Linked DNA regions of Homo sapiens: region 1 is linked to region 2. A link means that fine-mapping ties the variant in region 2 to the expression of a gene that starts in the linked region. Tissue or cell type: whole blood. Region 2 holds a variant in brackets; the other region holds the start of a gene. All regions are shown on one strand. Distances are from middle to middle.

The links. PIP is the estimated chance that this variant, and not a neighbour inherited with it, causes the effect.
Region 1: UMAD1 starts here. The variant in region 2 is fine-mapped to the expression of UMAD1 in whole blood (TOPMed, PIP 0.93).

Annotation. Positions count from the first base shown.
Region 1 is chr7:7,639,300-7,641,923 of GRCh38, reverse strand. UMAD1 (UBAP1-MVB12-associated (UMA) domain containing 1) reads right to left here and starts at 1,172. Exons shown (of 4, transcript NM_001302348.2): 1 at 1,103-1,172. It overlaps RPA3 (replication protein A3), which reads left to right. Exons shown (of 8, transcript NM_002947.5): 5 at 749-1,604. The coding sequence starts at 1,506. RefSeq lists enhancers at 712-881, 962-1,011, 1,052-1,251, 1,522-1,571, 1,942-1,991 and a silencer at 1,352-1,481.
Region 2 is chr7:7,746,828-7,749,594 of GRCh38, reverse strand. The region is part of intron 2 of UMAD1 (UBAP1-MVB12-associated (UMA) domain containing 1); the gene reads right to left. Among named protein-coding and RNA genes, the nearest start is that of RPA3, 30 kb to the right of the region's middle. The variant C/T (reference allele first, on the strand shown) is at 1,371.

The DNA of each region.
Region 1 (2,624 bases), 110 kb after region 2:
AAACCTATTAAGTGCTAAGGAAACACTAAGGGAGACTATCATTTAATTATCGTACATGAGATTCCAATCTTAAATTGCCACGTGAAGTCTCAAATCGGATCTTTTTTGCTTAAGGGAATTTGAACGATGACAATTCTGTAGCTTTGGGCCAATTCACAGACTCAGTTTCCACAACGTTATAATACCCAATTAAAACTTCTGTCCAATTTCCACCGTACCGTTTGAAGGTATTTTTATGTGCACTCATTCTAGAATACTCCTGGCAAGGCCGCCGGCTTCGGGTCACAAGATGAGCCAGGGACAGATTGGAGACTACCCCCAAATCTCCCAGGAATCGGTTATCTTCCAGACCTCCAGATCGCCCTCCAGAGTCTCGCAGTGTGGAGGGCAACGACAGAAAGACTGCTGAGGGGGTTTAAACTGTTGAGTCAAACATATGGCCAAAAGTCAGAGTCAACTGGGACCTTGCAAATCATTCCGCCTAACCCTTCGTTTTGCAGATGGGGAAAACACGCCTCAGAAGGGAGAACCCTAGCTCGGGGAACCCTAGCTCGGGGTCTAACAACGATTTAAGCTTGTCTCCCCTAGTACTGGCCAGTGGTTCTTCCCCGTTACCCATCCTTAAGTGCTTCTATTGGCTGCCAACACGGAGGGGTTAGCGGGGTGAAAGAACCGGCGCCTCCGCAGTGTGGCCAGGTTGGGCTAAAAAACGTCTTAGAAGTAATCGGATCAATCTCTCTTCTTACAGGTGGAGAAAGTGGAGAAAGTAGAGTGACGCAGCTAAGGGAGTAAATCGACCCTCAGCCAACAAGTGGCAAAAGCCTGAAGAAAGTGATCAAGATCACTGATGACCCCGCTGCCCATCTCCAAGGGGGCGGGTATCACAACCCCGACGCCACACCACGTATCATTCCGCAAAACTCCCGCGCCTCCCACGCAGAACTGGCAAGAGGGAAGGCGAGACAGCAGTGAACAGCTGGTACGCAGCACCCACAGCACCGCGGCAGCAGCTAGTGCCGACTCCCGCCTAGCTCTTTTGACTCTGTTCGCGGGAAGAATGGGGAAACAGTAAGGTTGCGGCGCCTCCCGCGAGACGAGGTACCTGAGGCTGGCCCCGCAGTCCCCCGCCGCACCAGCACCGGAGCTTCACACCCCACTTCCGGGGTCAAGTCACCGCCGGGAATCCTGTGATCGCAGAAAGGTAGTCTCAGGTTCCGCCCCTATCCAAGTCCCGCCTCCACTGCCTCTCGCCCTGTATCTGTCAACTTCCGGGACGCCGCGCGTCACTAAGCAGCCAATCTCCACTTCCGGACTCATCCAGCCCCTTCTCCACCCCTTTCAGAGACAGCGCGATTGCGATTTAGGTTTCCGCGCATTTAATTGGCGAAGCTGGAGCGCTAGTCTTCGCTGATTGGTGCCGAGAAATCTGCCCCATAGACACCCGCGGGGCGCACAGTTTCAGTCGTCCGTGGGTTTCCCGCCAGCCGCAGTCTTGGACCATAATCATGGTGGACATGATGGACTTGCCCAGGTCGCGCATCAACGCCGGCATGCTAGCTCAATTCATCGACAAGCCTGTCTGCTTCGTAGGGAGGCTGGAAAAGGTGTGCGGGTTCGCAATCATGGGCTCCCAAGTCCGTAGCTGGAGGGAGGGACCCCGCCTGGATAACGGGGGATGAAAAAGGACGGAAAGCCTCCGATCACTGCGCCCCCGACTCCTTTATTTTGCACAAGGAACTTTTTGGAAATTCTTTAGCCGTTGTAGCCCCATTTTGGCGCTCTTTTATGGCACGGAAACAAAGTGTTTTCAAATGCTGAGTTCTAAATTCCAGTGCCCGTCGCCTCCGTTCTAGCCGTGCTTACGTAAGGGAAATTATAAACACCACTCCCACATCTACCTTCAGATTTCTTAGTTTACTCAGACGTGACGGACGCAGACAAAACTAATCTGCTGGTTTCCTTCTCTTCTGAAATTACTTATTTTTGCAAACCTCGTTTCCTCGTTGTGATCGCTTCTCTGTAAAACATGCCTTGGTTGTCCGCTTTGGGTCCCGTAGTAACGAGTTATTTAACCCCAGTATTAAAGTGAAGTTCCCTCATTCTACAGGCGAGAAACAGGCCCAAAGTCTTGGAATCAGTGACCTGAAAAGCTGAGGAAAAGAAAACTATTATATAAAGACTTATTTAGTAGCTCATTTCATCCACACATCCTCTTCCTTAAATGAGTGTTGCTCTGACTTCCCAAGTAGGGAAACTGAGTAGGAGTGGTAGGTGGTTGACTAAAATGCTCAGAAACTCGGCAAATGGCAAAGCTGGCATTCAAACGCAATCTGACAGCGCTCTTTACAGCTGCTTCCCAGGAGTAGGACCCAGATATTCTAGCAACCAGTTCTCCTTTTACTTCATCATGCCTGTTTTTTAAAACATACCCTCCGTGGGATATGTACTGTCTAAATCATGAGTGCCAGCAGATTTCACTTTTAGGGTGGGCATCCTTTAATTTGTTATCAGAATAGGGTTGCCATATTTAGCAAATACAGAACCTACTTAACACTACAAAAAAAATCCTTGTTTATCTGAAATTCAGAAATTAACTGTGTGTTCCATGAACAGATTTGATAACA
Region 2 (2,767 bases):
TAATTTCTCACTTTTCTGAAGGAAGCCTTTGCCACCAGTACTGAGAACACTATAAAATTAAGTACTGGAAGCTAAAATTGCTAAATATTCTATAAGCCATGAAAAAAACGCTTACCCACTCCCATTCCTGGAAAAGGCATTAACTAATGTTCCTCAAATATTTTTCCTTGGATTAGGCAGAAACAGTTCAAACCCACAGAAGACACATAGCTTTCACGTGGAATACGGGCTATTAAAGTGTGCACTGCTGGAAAGTAATTAAACCATACTGTACTCTCACTGAGGTGAGATTATAAAAACCTAGAAAAGAGTCCTTCAAGGAAAATGTGTCAAAACCATTTAAATTAATTTAGCACATCAAATTTCACTCTATTTATTGTGGAATTGTTGCAGTTATTTTAACATTAAAAAGAAGTAACTGATAAATTGAATTTGTTATGGAATCCCCCACAAACCTGTCCTCAAATCTATTATAAAACACCAATACCAAGTATGGAAAGGCTCATGCTAGAAAGTTTAAAAACATTATCAAGGGAAATTTTTTTTAAGCAAATACAGAAATCAATGCAAAGCAATCACACTGATCTGGGCGAAGAAGAGCCCAGAGTAAAAGAAAATCATGTGTAATAGGATATCTCTAGCACAGCCAGAAAAGGAGGGATAAAAGAGGGAATTAGGAGTGTGAGAAGTTTGGCAGTTCTTAGATTTACTGATGACCCTGCCTGGCTGATAGAGCTAAATCCTAAAGTATCCTTCTGATAAATATTACATTATTTTCCCCAAATTTTTGCTCCTAAAAATAAAAGAATTTTTTAAATTTTTATATATACAAATATATAAATATACACATATACTTATATGTCTATAAATGTACTACTCATCCCCAAAGAACAACATGATAGGTTGTATTTTAACAGGAATGAAGGTAATAGATGGGAATTTGGTAAATGTGTAAATCGGCATTATGATTATATTATTAATATTAATGTGCCACCACAGGAAAATGTTGATAACCTTGCTGTAAATGTAAATCTAAGCCAAAAATAAGTCCTTCCTCACTTGATCCCCTCAAAAAATTACAGCAGCTCTAACAATGAGACATTGATTAATTTATATTCCAATCTGGAAATGGTTATCTAGTTCTGTGGCAGAAGTAGATTTCAAAATATCACTGTTAGTCTACCATATGTCTAGAAATCTTTATTTTATAAATGCATATTGAATTCATATGTTATAATTTATGGAATATAATTTGGTTTAAGGAATTATTATATTATAATTTTATGACATAAACAATTACATAACAAAAAGTAAATAATAAAACATATAACTTTATAAAATAAAACATATAGGCCGGGCACGGTGGCTCA[C/T]GCCTGTAATCCCAGGACTTTGGGAGGCCGAGGCGGGCGGATCATGATGTCAAGAGATCAAGACCATCCTGGCCAACATGGTGAAACCCCGTCTCTACTGAAAATACAAAAAAAAAAAAAATTAGCTGGGCGTGGTGGCAGGCCCCTGTAGTCCCAGCTACTCAGGAGGCTGAGGCAGGAGAATCGTTTGAACCCAGGAGGCGGAGGTTGCAGTGAGCCGAGATCACGCCACTGTAAACAAAACAAAACAAGAAACATATATAATCATAAAACATATACTTTATTAGATGATTATGCATTGTTTTCCTACTTTTTTGGCTCAGAAATGGCACATCATCTAATAATTCAATGATTTAGATTTAATTTCTATACATTTTCCCCAAAATACAGGCAAAACTTTCTTTTCCTCTAAGGAAAATTATTTGTTAAACTGAAAATAATGAAGACTAAGTTTTCCATTAAATGGAGAAATAAGGCAACCTAGCAGGTAACAATGAAGATTTCCCATTTCCTGAAACCCTGACCTAGTGGACTCAATGCTAGAGATGAAAGGACCAAAAACCTCCATGTTTGTTCTGTTTTGAGTTACTCCTCTGGCAGCCTTCTCGGCAGTTTCAATTGCCTAAAAGGCTTATTATTTCTTGGAAAAAATATACTTCATAATTACTAAGTGTCATGATAACCTAAGATTTGACGCTTTCTGACTGTCACTGTAATGGAAAGAGAGCCATCCTCTACTACTCTGTGACCTTGACCAAGTCACTGCATATCTTTGAGTCTTGGTTTTCCTCATCCATGAACCAAGATGGAAACATTTGCCCTGCCTTGTTCTAGGGATTTCTGAAAGGACCAAATAAAGTAGCACGTATGAAATGCTCTATGATATAGCAAGTGTTAAACAAATGAGGTGCCATTAATAGTTGCAAGAATAATACTGATTACCTAATTAAATTAAATATACTTAACTGTAGTGGGGCCTTTTGAAACTCTCTCGTTTAAACAATTTCTGTTCTCCTGTAGCAACTCCAAAACAATACTAGGATTTATTCCTTCCCTATTATTTAGGTAAAAGTCTTCATGGCCTAATGGCTAAAGTATCTCATTACTATTTCTCACCATGCACTCGAAGGCAACTTTGCCTACTTAACAATAAACATCATTTCTAATTAGATATATGAAGTGCCTAAAATAAACATGGCAATAACTTCCAATAACAGTTCACACACATACACACAGACACACACACACACACACACACACACACACACAAACATGCACTCCACTTAAAAGAAATATAAACATTTTTTTAAAATCTCTTAAATCTATAGGGCCTTAATACCAGAAGATAGCAATAAGAAACAGGATTGTATGTGTAAACTGTGTCAAAGCCAATAATA